Regions from separate parts of the Homo sapiens genome. Here region 1 is linked to region 2. Evidence: fine-mapped expression QTL. A gene starts in region 2. The other region holds a variant in brackets. All regions are shown on one strand. Distances are from middle to middle. Region 1 overlaps TLE4 (TLE family member 4, transcriptional corepressor). Region 2 holds the start of TLE4 (TLE family member 4, transcriptional corepressor).

Region 1 (8,335 bases), 130 kb before region 2:
TACCCAGAACTTTTGGGTCTATGTTCCATTTTATTTCCACTGAGCCTTAATGTCACAATCTCTTTTGTGGCATTTCTGAACTTCCAAAGCACATTGTTAAGAAGATTGATGGTCTTTCTTCATACCTGTGGTGATGGCAACTCTTTATTACAAGCTCCAAAGATGTGCAGGTGGGAGTTTGGTGGGGGAGAGAGATGGGACCAGTGAGTGGGTGCCCACTGGGCGGGCTGGGGACCTCTAAATCCGTCCCTGCTGTGCCAGCCCCTCTTGAGGTTTTATATGAATACTCTAGCCCTAGACCTATCAAACGTTCAGCCTTAAACTTAGTGGCAGAAAAGACTGCAGGCATTATTCAGTAAGGCTGAAGATTGACACAAAACATTACGAGCCAAACGATTTTTTAAAGTGGACTACTTCTTGACTTTTGTGTATCTCTGCTGAGTTCCAAACCTCACTCCCAAGCCATGAGACTTGGGTCAACACTTCTGCTTTGCTTTCACACAACCCAATGCACTCAGTAGGTTTTCATGACCACTGAAACCATGCATGCAATCATCATCTGTGGGTTACTATCTACCATACTTCATGCCTCAATCCCGTTTCTAGTTTTCCCCTCTCCAGTCTATCCACCTCACTTCTGGAATTCATACTTCCCAAAGAGAGGTTCAGCCTGTTTTAACTCCTCTTTTAAAAGGACAGTTTCCTACTGTTCACAGGGGGAAAAAAATTCCAAATTTCTGAGTATGGCTGTTTTCCAAAGTCCTCACTCCACACCCCAATCCAGAGTCCTGGCCTTGTATCCTACATCAGCACTATAAGCCAGTGTTCCCCTGGGCTCTGTGTATTTTCGTTGCACCTGTAGCCTTTTTTCCTGGCTTATGGCAATGACTATTTTCTCAAGATCTATCTTTTGAAATCCCCCACTATCCTTAAGAATCAGCTCTAATGTCACCTTTCAAAGCTTCCTCAGATGCTGTCAGGCAGAATTAATCATTCATTCCTCTTTGTTCCCTTAACATTTTGTTCCTCCAATGAGTAAAGCACTCACAACAAATTTATTGCTGTGTTTACAAGGCCACTTCCCACTTTAGGCTGTGGGTTCCCTGAGGGTGGGGCACCTAGCATCATGAGCAGAAGGGAACTGCCCAGAAATATTTCTCAACACAAATGGCTGAACATCCCCTCTGCACGCCTCAATCTCACTCCAAATCTCTTATGATACATTCCTTTTCTGAGCATCACTAGGATGAACAATTCCATGGGAGACCATTCACTAGAGTAAGATTTGTGTTGTGGTGCCCTTGGAATCGGTAATATGGCAATTCAGCCCCTTCCTCACCTTTGCTCCTTTACTTACCTTTAGATGCACTAAATCTGGCTAATTTCATATTTTACAAAAAGAAGAAAAATGGAGTATATATATCTTTTATTAACAATTCTCTGATTCTGCTATATTCTATTGAAAGTTATTTCCACATTGTTTAAGAGGAAAAATTTCTAAACAAAACAATTTCTTAAAAATACTAAAAGGTAATGCCTATTTAGATTTAGATTTTATGTTCATTTATTGGCTCATATGTACAACCAAATACTTTATATTTTTCTTAAGCTAGCTGTTTCCGGTTTTGCAGGCAGCGTTGTATTTTTGAAGTTGACTGTAGAACAGAGTTACATGTTGGAGTTTCTTGGTAGAATGATAAAGTAGTTAATTATCACTAGCATTTAAAGGTTAAGCTGCACAGTGGGCACTGGGGCAATCAGCAATGTTCTAATAACATAATTACTCTGGAATCAAATTGGACTTGGCACAGACTCTCATCATGAATCTTGTAAGTCCACCATTCTGCCACAGGAATGCCACTTGGATCTTTGCTAGGCATGTGAATAAGAGGAATTAAATAAATACCGATAAAGTCATGCTTTTACTAGAAAAGCTTTTTATTTTATTATTTTTTATTTCTCTATTATTATTTTAAAAGCTCAATTTAGATATTTCTCAAGTTTACTACATAAGAAACTTACTGAAGCTGCATTGTGACCCTATAAATCTACAAATTTAGAAGGATTAAACACAAGTCTTTCTCACTACAGTTTGAGTGTGCGTGTGTGTGTGTATGTGTGTGTGTATCTCAGCAAATCTGTTATGATTGGAGAGTCACGGTCACAAGCAATGGCTGATCCAGAGAAAGCAAAATACCCTGAATGTGAATGTTTAGTAAAGCTCTGGATTTTAAAAGTAAACACTTATGCTGGGATATTTAAAAAGAACAGGGTAGATCTGTTTAAGAAAAAGAGCAGGAAAACAAGGAGAAACCAAGAAAAAAATACTAAAGGATTAAAAGACTTATTACATGGAAACCCCAATTGCTTTGGTAGCAAAAGGTAAGCTTTAAAAAGCTATAATCAGGTTCTAATTTCACTATGAGAAGATTCTAGTTCCTAGATTAAAGACCATCCCAGACTTTACTAGGGCTGTTGACCAAGTCAGATGGAAAACTGACACCTCCAGCAACTTGAAAGGGAAGGCCCCACCCCTCCACCTTTACTCCTCTGCCACCTCAAGATCAAAGATGACAATGTATGAGAAAGACTTCTATAAAGTAACTTCCCCCTCCAAAAGAAGATGCTGTTGTTATAATTAGCTAATTTTAATAACAGGGAGCACAGATTTTAATAGCAGGCAAGAGCATCTCTCTGGAGTCAGACTGCCTGGTGTGAGTCTAGAGTCTTCACTTAATAGCCGTAAGGGATGTTGCTTAGTCTCAGCCTCTCTTTAGTCTGGGGTAACAACACACCATTCTCAGCCCCACGGGCTGCTTTGAAGACCAAGAAAAATAATCCACATAAAGTACAACGCGCAGTCCCAGGCACATAGCCTAGCCCCTCAACAGTGCAACTTAGTCCTATCACTGTATACTGGACTCCAGTTGATTCTACTTACTTTAGAGATTGGGATGGTGACCTAGTGTGGATCTTCTATTTTAAACCTTATGTTAGGTCTTTTCTAGACATTTGTGTAGGACTTCCCCCAGCATAGATATTCTGATGCCCCATAATTATAGGGTTTTAATATGCTACTATTCACCAAAACTTTTCTCCTTTCAACAATCACGATAAGGTTTTGGTTCAATACTGCACAGAGGCAAGACTGCAAATACCATCTCCACAATGGACTTTCTAATTTGATTTCAAATGCACACCATGCCAATTTTGCTTTCCATTCACACAGGTGCAGTGCTTAGACTTCCCTGCCCATAGACGATAACAACCAGAAAGAACATGCTAAAGGTCGCATGGAAACCATGATCAAGCAGCCTAAAACTCATTCGTTATGGCTTGTTTGCTCATCAGCTATGGCCTTCAAAAATCGTATCCACACGGTACAAAAGGGTAAATCAGTTTTCAAACAGATAAATGGGATAATGAGGAGTCAGAAGGTACCACTAAAATATGTCAAGGGTAATTGCAAGTCCTGGTTTGCCCTTTCTACACCTGTTGTCCAGACTTCCCTTCACTCTCAAAAATGGCCAAGTTTAGACGATAAATTA[T/C]AGTTACTCTTAACTATAGTTCAGTCACTATAGGAATTCTCAAACATTAATCAGAGTCAGGGACGATTCAAGTTGAGTTTGTTTTTGGTGATGGGGACAGGGGTGGAGGCACAGAAGACAGAAAGCTGAAGAAGGCCCCTGTAGATCCTTTACTGATGCCATAACCAAAGTCCTCAATCATATTTTCCTCTGCAACCCCTTAGAAAAGCAAAAGACCCATGTCAAAAATAAAAATGAACACTGGTGACTCTATAGTCATGAATCATCCAAAGAGTTGATCATGTTCACCAGACCACAAAGCACTGTATTTCTGTTTTTTTGGAACTACTTTGAGTAAGTTTGGAAAGTAATATCCTGAATAAACCTACGTACATCAAACTACTGTTGTACCATAACCCAGCTAGTTCTGCTTGGATTTTATTGTACAGAATTACACAAAATGTTTATTTTCCCATTCATTGAGCTCTTTATAACTGATAAAACATTTTAACATATTATTATCTCATTTACAGGGAAACCACCAGGATATACATATATATATATATATGTATATATATATAAGAAATAATCCTCAATTGGAAAAAAGTAAATATAAAACCTTTAAAATGAAAATTACTTGGTCAAAATGCACAAGTCTCACATACTAACACATAACACATGTAAATTTATGTAAATGAACTTAAAATTTATAGCATGCTGGTGGTAAAAAACTTGAATATAGTAGAGCTCTGACTGAGCCAGTCACTGGTGTCAGTTTACTGCTCATCACAGTAAGAGGTTTTTCTTTTTTATAACCTGCTTGATTAAGGAAGTCATTAAAAGCACAATCTGTATAAAACTCTCACAGAACTTGCTTTTTTCAAATTAACATAAATCAAAACTCACCTTCAAAAATGACTGGGACTTTCTAAAGCCCTGCCCTTGTTAAAAGAAGATTTAATATAATCTCCATATAAAGTAATGAATCTATTCTTAACAAATGTTTCACCTTCTGTAACATTTCATGAACAATATATTCTTTAAAATGTTCTATTGTTTTTGTCTCTGCTTCTCTACTGGTAAGAGAAACCTGGATCAAGGTAAATTTCTTTTGCAGGTAATCAAAATATTATCAAACCAGAGGAACCAACAGTCAGAAGAATAACAGAAGAGAGGCAGTGTCTACAATGGTTATGCTACAGGTATAAAAGTCAGACAGCCTTGGGTTCAAGACCAGGCTGTAACACTTGCTATGTGACCTTGGGAAAATTCATGAACCTCTTTAAGCTTCCATTTCTCCAGTAGGTAAGACGAGGGTGTTAGCAGCACTTCCTTGTAAGTTGCCATAAGGATAAAGAAGAATTCAACCTAGCATCTAGTACTAGTAAGCCCCCATAGACAGCTATTCCCTTTTGGCAAATGTGGAAACAACCGCATATTTTTTGTCTGCTTATGGACTCATTCAACAAGTATTTAACCCACTAAGTACAGAAACACATGAAATGTCTTGAATAAAATATTAATACACACCTTGAAGAATGAAATATACACCTTGTTTTTCAGTAGGGCTCCTTGAGTCAAAATACTTAGGATACAAAAGTATTACATATTTTTTTCTTCATGTGTAGTAGAAAATACAGCACTTCAATATTAATTCATTCATGTTCTGTTTTCATGGCCTCAGCATTATGTATTGCTTGGTCAGTATAAAACGCTCTAATAATTTATAAGATATCAATAAAATTGATTTTAAATTAGAACATTATCTTAATGTCCTCTCGGGGGTTTCTTCACTGTTGCTTCCTCTTCCTGGAATAAAGCTATTGGCTCCACCCCAGAAATTTCATTGAACACAGTTACTTTAGCTGACAAACTGAGCTGCTGGGACATGATGCTTTGATGCCAAAGACACAGGGTTGATTCTTATGTAGGGAGCTTAGTTGCCCTCTCTTGAAAGCTAGTCTGCATGTGGTGCAAGTGTTGGGCCACACAAGGAAGAAAGTAGATGAATGAGTTGGAACAAGTACAACCCCTCACCACTGATGGAGAGAAGAATCCAAAGTACAAGCTGAATTAATCAAGTAATCCCTCTCCTGATCATTAGAGATGGCATGGTATTAACAGTCTAACAGAAATTGTAATAAAAATTGCCAACTGCATACAACTTTGTATTGTGTTCATCGTTTAAACTACCTATCACCCCAAAGTCATTTCGCACTTTTCAATCCAATGGACCTCCTCAAAGTTTGCAAAGTCTAACATTTCTGTGTCCATTTGTTCTCCAGCAAGAATTCTCGCTCTCCTTAATACAAATTCTATAAATCTTGTATGCTAACTCTGTAAATTACAGTTACATGCACTGGCCACTTTCTTCTGGAATTATTTTTTTCAGTATATGACCTGTAAAACATATCATAAACCACTCATTCACCTACTGCTTTATAACCAATGTTACTAAGTCTCACTGGCAAATCTCATGTGGTACATGAGTTTGACTGCCCTAAAAACAAAAGTGGAGAGGGTTGGCAAAAATCTCTTTCCTGGATGTTCACGGAAGGTGCACTGGCTTTATACCTATCCCTGCACTGTGCTCTGTTTTTGAATGAAAATATCAACACAAGCATAACAGCTGCTTTGACAAAGCTGAAGTAGGGTAACAGCTCAGAGAAATAAGTTACTAAGCTTTAGGACTTGGCAAGCTGTATCTTAATGGACCAGAATCTTCATTTTAGTAACTATTAACATTTATTAGAAAAGAAAGTCTTTTCATGTTGCTATTTTTTTTTTCCAGTAAACTGCTTTAATCTATTTGAAAGGCTAAACTTTTTTTTCCAAAGAGTGTTAACTCCACAGATTCTCATATATATTCTTATGTATTCTGTATGCAAATATACTCTATACAATGTCTGAGGGTAATACAACAGGAACAAAGAAAGAAATGACAATATATCAATTTAAAGGAAGGCTGCCTAATAAGTTTTAAGGTCGCTAATCAGGAACTCTGGTCTTCTTCATATCACCACAAAAGGGCTAAACAGTTTTCAATTATCGCTTAACTGATTGGTCTTAAGGGCCTTCATTAAAATATTAAAGTTATTCTTTAGAATGGCGCTGACAGACAGAAATATAATGTGAACCACCTATGTATTTTACACTTTTCGGATAGTCAGATTTTTTTAAATGTATAACAGTAAAATTAACTGTGGTCATCTATTTAATCCAATACTTCAAAAAATACCATGTCAATACACATATTAATATGAAAATTATGTGACATTTTACATTTTTTTTAGTACTAACTGTTCAAAATCTGATGTGCATTTTATACTGACAACAGTACACCTCAATTTGGACTGGCCACATTGCTGCTGCTGAAAAGCCACATGTGGCTTGTGGTTACCATGTCAGACAACACAGGTCTAAAAGTTCTCAGAGTCACAACAGAAATCAACACCCAATAAGACAAACATCTCACACTTGATATAAGTAGCAGGTGTCATCTAGCTCCTGCCCACCTTCTCCAATCTGATCTGAAAATTTCCTTCTCAGAGCATCAGACAACCCAAACGTTTTCATCCTTCAGAGCCTCTGTGCAGACTTCTGCCAAGAACTCTCTTTCCCAGCCTGAGTGGCTAGCATCTTTTCATCTTTTATGTTTCAGCTTAAATGTCACATCTTCAGAAAGGTCTTATCTGTAATGCTATCCAAGGAGCTCCCTCCAGCCGATCTCTAACACACTCCCTTGTGTGCTTCCTTCCCAGCACTGTGGCTGTGGCTACTCTTTTGATTATTTATCTCATCTACTTGACTAGAAGCTCCATGAAGGCAAGGACCACGCCCGTTTGGATCACCACGAAAATCCAGTACTTCGGTGTTTTAATTGACAGCTGCTGAACAAATGAATGGGCACAAAACTTGGTTCTGCTCATGTATGCTTCATGTTACCATATTATGTTCATTATATTAAGATAGGAGATTATGCATTCCTAAAGGTCATGCACTATTGTGTCTTATTTCTTTGCATCCTCAGTGCTTAATATAATGCCTGTAATACAAGAACAGTGGTGTGTGTGTGTGTGTGTGTGTGTGAGATATGCATTTGTAGGCACACCAAAGGAGGGAGGCAGCCTTCAAAAATAGTAATTTTGAAAGTAATAGGGTGACAAGATAATTTTCAGAACTATGTTGAAAAGACAGTTAAAGCTGGTGCCTTTTCACTGCTGCTCTCCTCACCAATCAAGGATGCAGGCCCCTCCCCCAAGGTCAGTGCCCAGTCCTGGCCACTGGGTGGGCATGCAATGAATATTCATTGTTGGATAAATGTATGAAGGCCACCTTTTTAAAAATTGTAATAGAAATTAATCTTTCCTATAAGAGGGAAAGTTTTCAACAGGTTATCCCTTTCCTTGTCTCTCATCACACACTCCTCAGCTGTCTGTGACCACAGGGAAACAAATCTTACTTAAGTCTGACCACTGAAAAGACAGGATTTAAAGGAATCCTGCCTGACAGACCCAGGGAAGAATGCACGCATCAGCAGTTTTTCTGTGCTGCTCATTTAGAGAATAGTGACCCTGGGGAGCTCCTTGAAATGTTTATCCCCCAAGGAGGTATGTGGTAAAAGGAAAAACATCCTTAGTCCTCCCCCCTGCTTTTTTTTTTTTCTGGTTAGTAAGTCACCACACACAGATGATGAAAGAAAAAGCCAAATATAAGGCAGACAGATATAATACTTGTTTTTTAAGGAAGATGTTTACATTGGTTGATATTTAAGTCATAGATGACTACCTGGTGCTTTACGTAAATTT
Region 2 (8,335 bases):
GTTAACAGCATACAGAAAAACTGGCAAAAATTGTTTGGAGCAAGAGCAATAAAACAACAAAGAAAGCCACTAACACAAAAACATTTTTGCTTGTGACAAAACAAACAAGGTTTTGTTTTTATTTTTTTTCGATCTGTAAAAACAAAGCACAGAAAATTATACCCCATGTGGCTGAACTTTCTGAAAATTCCAATCAAAGCCAGTTGTCAAAGGCAAGTTATAACAGCCTAGAATTACAGGTTGCTAATAGACATATTCCCACAACTTCAACTGCACTGGCAGGGTGACTGTGATCTATCTTGCAGCCCCCAGCAATTTAAACATATTCTTGTTTTTGGTATTCCAAACTAATAGGCACTTTGAATCTGTGACATGGTTTTCTTACCATGACATAATGCCGCTGCATCTCTGTCTTCTCACTGGCGAGTTTCTCACATTCCAGCTTCAGACTGTTCAAGACATAAGATACTCTAAGTACAATGATCTTAACTTACATCCTTCAACTCTTAAACGCATATTCTAAATCTCACCTACAAACAACTAAATCAACAATCTTAAATAAATACCCCCATCATTATGGAAAGGGAAGGGGAAAGGGGTGATTGGAACCAGTCTGGACTTGCCCCTTCAATAAGGATCATATATGTGGTTTTTTGTTTTTAGGATTTTTTTTTTAATTAAGTTTTAAGGAAACAAATCCTCTAATCAGTTTAATTCAGGAACTTCCTCCAGAATTGAATATTCACTTAATAAAACAAACACGAAAATAAACTTCAATAATGACTGCACATACAAGCACAAATAAGTCCTCCAAAACGTCACAAGGGAATTTCTTTAATGTTCTACAAAGAGATTAATGAAAATATGAATCAAGCATGTCTTATGAATGATATCTTGTTTTTTTCCCTCCAAAACACACAGACAAGTTGAATACCACCACCCAGGGGCAAAGTGTCAATCGGGTTCAGTGGTTTGTTTTGGTTCTTGCATTTATGAAATAAGAATTAGGCATCATTAAAAAGCCAGCTAAAGAAAAATGTCTCAAAGGCACCCTAAGTCTAAAAATCGTCTATAAGATGAAAACATTTTTTTTTTTTTTAGCATAAAAGTAATGAAATCGCTCACTCCGACTTCCCTGGGCTCTCAGCTCTTCAGTGGAATGGCAGAAAAAAGTGAGAAGGAATCAAGTCCGGAGTAATAAAGAACCAAGGATGTCAAAAGGCCCCAGAATCTTCCCAACCTTTCATTCTCCCGGCCCCAATAAATCAATATCGAAAGTTTGGCCTCAGCGTTTTCCAAGTCTCCCCAGTTTCGATTGTTCTGCCTTCTTTTTATTTACGGTAGAAGAAATGTTTAATTTATTTACACCTGCCTAAGGAAGGAGGCCTTGATTTGCCCTTTCTGCCCACCGAGAAAAAAAAATAATACCTTTGTGACGCCCCCACAAAAAAGGAGGAGGGTAAGTGTTTGTGTGTATTTGTCGGGGAGACAAGAGCTAAGCAAACAGAAGGATCAGCTAAAGTCAATATCGTTACCTGTGGTATTGAGCCTGTAAAAACTGAAACTCTTCCTTAATCCGATCACAGGATTCGGAAATTGTAAATTTAAAGGGTTGAGCAGGCTGATGCGGTGCCTGAAGAACAACAATAAAATATTTAATTAGCCCACATCACAGGCGAAGCAGGGAGACGGAGAAAACCTACTATGCGGCGTTAGCGGGGGGTGAGGGTCATCGCGCACGCAAGCAAAGAGAGATTAAAACTCTCCTCCCGCAACCCTCCTCGCGCCCAACAGCCCAGGCAGAGGCTGGTTTCGAGGTGGTCCTGGGGCCCCGCATACTCCCGCCCGCAGGCCCCCGCGCCCCGGACCCCGAGGGTTCGAGTCCCGTCTCCCCTCCCCGGCCAAAGACAGGCACCCAGGGACCCGCGCGCCGCGCCCACTCCCTCCTCACCCGGAATCGAAACTGGCCCGTCGGGGGGACCCGCGCCATGGCGTCGGGCTGCGGTCAGGCCGGGGGAGGAGGGAGGCGGCCGCCACCCTCTCGGCTCGTTCGTTCGCCCGCTCGCCCCGGCGGCCCGCGGCGCGAGGGGCCGGCGCCCCGCACTTCCAAACCGCAGCCAGCCCAGCAGCGCCGCTGCCGAGGGCGCCCTCCCCGCCCGGGCGCGGAGTCGCGCCTCCTTCATCGCTCGCCACCCCCCCTCGAGGAGTCGCGGCGCGGGGACCGCAAACGGCTCGGCGCGGCTTCCAGGGGCTTCAAAGACAACAATAAGAAAATGGCTACAACTCAATTGCCTCTCCGCACCCCCTCCGAGGGCCACCGCGCCGGGGGGTGGGGGTGATGGCGGGCGGGCTGCTCCCGGCGCGGGGCGCCGATTTCGGGCGGCTCTCCACGCCCCTCCGGCCAAAAGACACAACTCGGTGCGCAGGGGGCGACGCGGGGAATCCCCCAGCACCCGGCGAGCCCGCGCCCCGCCGCCCGCACTCACTGGGTGTCTGGTCTGCGGGTACATCTTGCTCAGGTCGCGAATCATCCAAGCCGATTTAGTTGGCTGCGCTCGGCAGAGGCGCGCGGCTCATTGGCTTTAATGACCCCGAAGAGGAGGCGGCCGCGGCAGCGGAGGCGGCCGGCTCGGTCTGAGGGGCGGCTCGGGCGGTCCCGGCCCCCGCCGGGTCTCGCGTGACACGGGCGGCAGGAACGCGCGGCGGCGGCTGGGTGCCGGCTGCCGGGCCGCTCCGCATTCCCCGCGGGCGTCACTGGCCCGCCGCGGGCATTGTCCGGCGCGCGTCTCCCAAGGCAACGCTCCGACGTTCGCTCCGCCGAGGCGCACCCGCCGAGCCCGGCGCCGCGGCCGCCGCTCACCCGGCCGGGAAAGTGCGGGCTCCGCGCCCCACCGCCCGCCGGCAGCTCCTCTCGCTCGCTCTGCGTCCCACTCCAAACTTTTTTTATTTGTCTTTTAATTGGTTGTTATTCCTCCGAATGAATGATCTTTCTTCTTCCCTAAAAGCAAACACAAACTCCTTTGGTTCGGAAGAGGTCTCGGCGGTGCTTTTTGGTTTCTCTGGAGATTTTTTTCACTTCACAGCAACGATCTTTTAAAAGGCACCTTTTAGCTTCTTTTACCACATCTCATTTCCTTATTTCTCTTCCTTCCTGTTTTCTTGTCTTTTTTTTAACCCCAAATTGAAGGGGATTATAAAAATAAAAGAGTGAAACGCTTGCGGCTTTTTTTTTTAATTCTCTCTCCTTTCAAACTCTGCGAACACCACCTCAAAATAATATACAAGTGTGTGAGAAAGGGGGAAGAAAGCAGCCAACAACCCAAACACCCGCTCAGCACAGCTCTAACAACACGCTCTGTGTAGGTGACTTCTTTGACCAAATTTAGCAGCAGCTAATCATTAACATTCTGATACATATTCACAATCTTCCGCGGGGCGGCCGCGCAGCATCCCGGGAGATGTAGTCCGCCCCGGGCGACCCTGCCTGAGAATACGGCCAGATTGACTACAATCACCGGCCCGCCATGCGAGCGCTCTGGCGAGCTCTCCAAGCGCCCCGCCCACCCCCGTTGCGGTAGGCGTCTCCACCAACCAATCAGAGGTGGCTGAACATTAATCGCCGTTCTGTGTTAGTGCCCATCATTTCACTGCTGACAAATGGCAAGCCAGCGGGGAGGAGCCAACCCAGCTGAAACCCACGTGGGGGCCGGGCGTCGCCTGTAGCTCCGACCAATTAACGAAGAGGAATGAGGTTGGCGGAGGCGGGGCGGAGATGGCCCGCCCAAGGCGGAGCTTCGCCTTGGCTGACGTTCCTTAGCGCGAGCGTTCGAACCGGGAAAACATTTGTTCAGCTGTCAATCAAAGTAACGTGGGGCTGGGAGAATCGGCGGCTGCTGCTGTTGCTGCTGCCCTGGCTGCATCTTCAGAATTAGGTGTTGGTGGTGGTGGTGGTGGTGGCGGCAAAATAAAGAGGGTGGAGGGAGCGGTGAGCCTGGGGGCTGGTCAAAAGATCTTCTTCCGAGTCTCGTCCTCCCGCCCACCCGTCTCCCAACCCAGACACCTTCGGCCCCTCGCTCCGCAGCCGCGCCAGGAATGCGGACTAATTAGGGTCCAATGTCTCCTTAAAGAGACAAGCTCGGCCTTGTGTAACGCGCCGAAACCCCTGTTGAGACAAGAGGGGGAGGATCACGCTGATCTTACTTCGTTCGGTTCACATCAATTTTACGCGCCGCTGGAGCCGGCATAATTTTCCGTGTGAACGCGACTCGGTCCCCGTTCTTGTTTAGAGCCAGAAATGGAGTCGCGAGATGCTGGCTGGGGCCGGGGCCGCGGGGTGGGCGGGGAGCTCGTCCCTCCAAGCCCCGCGGGGGCTGTGATTGCCATTTAGTTCCGAAACAGGCCTCCCTCCCTCCACCCCCGGAGGCACTCGGAGAGAAAGCGCATCCCGACGCTCCATCGGGGGTCGCGGGGGGCAGTAACCGTGGGGGCTCCGGGTGGGGCTGAAGATCCGGGAATCAGAGACGCTGGACCTCCAAAGAAACTTTGCCGACTGGGCCACGTGAACCCCGAACACGGTCGGTACTGAACAGAGCAGGCCGACGGGGCACGGGTAGAAAACGCCCCTGCGCGCCCTGGGACGTTCCCTCCCCCAGATCAGTACCAAGACTGCGCCTCTTTTTCCCGCTCTTTGGAGAAGCAAGTCAAGTTTATCCCCGTTAAAAACAGAGCAGGGTGCCACGCGGGCCCGAGAGATGGCGGAAAGGTGGGGGTGGCCCCAGGGGCAGATGCTGGAGGAGGAGAGAAAGGGGCAGCCATGGCTGAGGAGGGGCACCCCTAGGGAGGGGCCTGGGAAATGGGGGCGGCCTCCGTCAGTGCGCCTTTCCATCCTTAGTCCGTGTCCAGCTGGAGGCAGCGCCCCAGTTCAAGGGGAGGCTGCTGAGGCTCGCAGTCTTTTCTAGCGAGCGGCTAATCTTGGGGACAGGGAAAAAATTCGGAAAAAGTCAAGAAGAGTGTTGGCTAATGTAACAGGCTGGGTTTTAGACGTTTATTTCTATGCGTGCTTGCCTACTGTAACTTGACCTGTTGGTTGAGATGGTGCCGCCGGTTCGGCGTTAGTGGAAAACTATTCTTCTTAATGATATCCCTTTCCTCAGTGGATGACTCGGTGACTTAATGTCCAACCTAGCACGTTCTGTGAACCTCCTTCCGTTCTGGCCACTGTAGTGAGCTGGTGCAAAGGAAGGCTATGGTGGTCTTCACCTGCCTCTAATTTCATACTAAAAACCCAGAGCCAAAGTTCACAGAATGTTTCAATTCGGCAAATATTTTCGCCTCCATCCCCAAAATAAGAGGACAGAGAAGTCCTTTTGACAGTTTTCTGAACCTCTGCTGTTCCATACCTAGCCACATGTGACTGTTAAGCACTTGAAATGTGTCCAATTCAAAATGAGATGTGCTGTAAGTACACATATATGTGGCATTTTGAAAAAATTAATGTGAAAAAACTGCAGCTCAATAATTTATAATTATGTCAAAATTGTGATATTTTGAATAACTCAATTAAAAATATTAGTAAAATTAATTTTGTCTGTTTCTATTTATTTATTGTATTGATGGGGGTCTTCCTGTGTTGCCTAGGCTGGCCTCAAACTCTGAAGCTCAAGCTATCCTCCTGCCTGAGCCTCCAGTGTTGTTGGGACTGCAGGCACACACTTTTTTTTTTTTTTTTTTTTTTTTTTGAGACAGAGTTTCGCTCTTGTTGCCCAGGCTGGAGTGCAATGGCACGATCTCGGCTCACCGCAACCTCCGCCTCCTGGGTTCAAGCGATTCTCCTTCCTCAGCCTCCCGAGTAGCTAGGATTACAGGCATGCGCCACCACACCCAGCTAATTTTTTGTATTTTTAGTAGAGACGGGGTTTCTCCATGTTGGTCAGGCTGGTCTTGAACTCCTGACCTCAGGTGATCCGTCCGCCTCGGCCTCCCAAAGTGCTTGGATTACAGGCGTGAGCCACCGTGCCCAGCCTCTTTTTACTTTTTTAACTTTGTTCCTAGAAGATTTTAAATTATGAGGCTTACATATTTCCATTAGACAGCCCTGCCCTGAAACCTTCCCAAGAATCAAAAGTGAGAAGACTTTAGTGATACAATTTGCACACGAGGACAGCGAAGTTTCTAAGAACACCAGCAACAACCATGTTTTATTCTAAGGTTGGTTAGTTGCTTGCTCCCACTAGAGCTTTTCAATGGTTTGTGAAATCACCCACAGTGCCTCTGTAGGAAGTTCCATGTTCTCTATTTTAGCCAGAATGTTAGCAAGTTCCATGAGAACAGGGACCTGGTTGTGTTCACAGTTGCACTCCAAACTCCCCAAATTATGTCTGCCATCACTGTCTGGTAGTTGGTGCTCAGTAAATATTTGTTGATGGCATTAATGAATGAATACCTCATTGCATCCTTATAGGAAGTTTCCACATCATTTGGGTCATATTTATTGAAATTCTGTGCAGTTTTCTCTCAGGACAGGAAACGAGAATTCTAAGAATAGAACCCGAAGAACTATTGAAAGGGTCAGTGGACAAAGAGGAAACTTTGCTCTGTTAGGAAATATCAGATCACTTATAGCAAGGATCTTTCCCCTAATCTCTCTCGATGGTTTGTGTCAACAGGAAAGTGGCTAGAGAAGTCAAGATGTTTCTTTATTTTTTAAGTTCTGTATTAAAATATAGCCCTTGGATGTGTTTCACATTTTGGCCACGTGGCAGAGCTATGTAACTCACCTCAATGTCTCAGAAAGATGCAAATGCAGCAACTGGCGGCCCAGCCCTAGCCGTAACACAGACTGTAAGTGGGGCTCATGGCCACTTTTTCTCCTTTTCTCTGCTGTGCTTCTCTCATTGCACTTCTCGCTAACTGTTGAGCCAAGCTATGATGTTATCTGGAGGCCTGTCTTATCCCTACCACAGAGTGGGGGGTAGGTGGGGTGTTCCAGAGTTTTCATGTGGGAGGCACTTGGCAGCAACTTTCATGTTAAAAGCTAGGCCTGAAAGCTCCAATCTTGAAGTGACATATGCCAAGCATGCTTTTCACTTTGGTTAGATGTAAATCATTTATTTATTACTTCACCAAATATTTATTAAACCTACTATGTGCCAGAATATGGGGATTTCACAATAAAAGTGGCTATTATTAATATGTTGCCTCTTAGCTCCAAATTCATCCTCATTGCCTGCCTAGTGAAACTGAATCTGAGCCCTTTAAATATTTTCCAGCTGTTAAAAAAGCTAGGTCAATAGAAGGCGCTGGAGAGACATTGCAGGAGGAAAGGGTTTGGTTTCCTGGTTCCTGGCTCTGGTTGCATACTGGGCAGGTTCCTACAGCACAGGTAGCAAGCAGCAGCACCCAGCAGCCAGCAGCTTCCTCCAGAAGCCCCTTAGGTGGCTTTGGAGCAAGTGCCTCTAATGAGTCACCTCCCTCAGCAGCTTTCCTTGGAACCCCAGAGAATGGATTTCCAACGAGTTCTGGAATGTGGATTTCTAGCAAGTTCCAGAAGGCAGAATTCTAGCAGGGCTCTCCTGCTATTCAGAAAGTTACAACTGTGCCCTCTCCAGCAAAGTCTGGATCTCAGCCAGCCCTAAGAGTGTGTCTGTGTCTTGGAGGAGCTCTTTTTGAGATGCTGTATCTCAGCCCTAGGGTTAGTAAGTAGCTGTTCCTTATATCTCTATTTCTGTATTATTTAGAGCTCTCTTTACCTCTTACCAATCTCCCTTTGATCCAATTCCCTGTTATAGGTAATAATTTTTTATATTGAACTTTCCTTGTTGAAATTACTGTTTTTCTCTCTTGATCGGATCCCGATTGATACAGTAAACAACATAAGCAAAGTGTCTTTCTTGCTGGAGCTTACATTCTGATGGGGGGAGATAGACAAACAGTTGCATAATATGAAGGAGTGACAGGAGTAGTAGAACTAGTTCAGATGGGAGTTCATAGAAGCCTTCTTGGAGGAGGTGACATTTAAGCAGAAGCCTGAATGCCTAGAAAGAGTCAGCCAAAGCAAAAATCACTGAGAAGCAAATTTCAGGTGGATTCAAAAGCCTCATTTGAGGAAGTGTTGGTGAATGTGAGCATTTTTTAAAGACTGGTACATGCTAGACACAGAGTAATATAAGATTAGGTCATGGCTACATCACTGGGTTCTGGTCACATTGAACTTCTTATGCCTAATAAAAGCTTTCATTTTCTACTCTGATTATAATAGCCATTGTGGAGGGAGAAAGGCTCGTAAGCAGGGAGTGACAAGATCATTACAAATATCAACTTGGTATAAGGTGCCCAC

The links. PIP is the estimated chance that this variant, and not a neighbour inherited with it, causes the effect.
Region 1: its variant is fine-mapped to the expression of TLE4 in whole blood (INTERVAL, PIP above 0.99).

Annotation. Positions count from the first base shown.
Region 1 is chr9:79,694,633-79,702,967 of GRCh38, reverse strand. All of the region lies in intron 8 of TLE4 (TLE family member 4, transcriptional corepressor), which reads right to left. Among named protein-coding and RNA genes, the nearest start is that of LINC01507, 130 kb to the left of the region's middle. The variant T/C (reference allele first, on the strand shown) is at 3,549.
Region 2 is chr9:79,566,987-79,575,321 of GRCh38, reverse strand. It overlaps TLE4 (TLE family member 4, transcriptional corepressor), which reads right to left and starts at 3,357. Exons shown (of 20, transcript NM_007005.6): 1 at 2,487-3,357; 2 at 1,536-1,633; 3 at 386-449. The coding sequence starts at 2,531. LNCARSR (lncRNA regulator of Akt signaling associated with HCC and RCC) reads left to right here and starts at 7,370. Exons shown (of 3, transcript NR_184113.1): 1 at 7,370-7,690. RefSeq lists silencers at 1,746-1,985, 2,006-2,475, 2,586-2,745, 2,806-2,925, 4,836-4,885 and enhancers at 1,816-2,428, 3,156-3,245, 3,286-3,335, 3,346-3,475.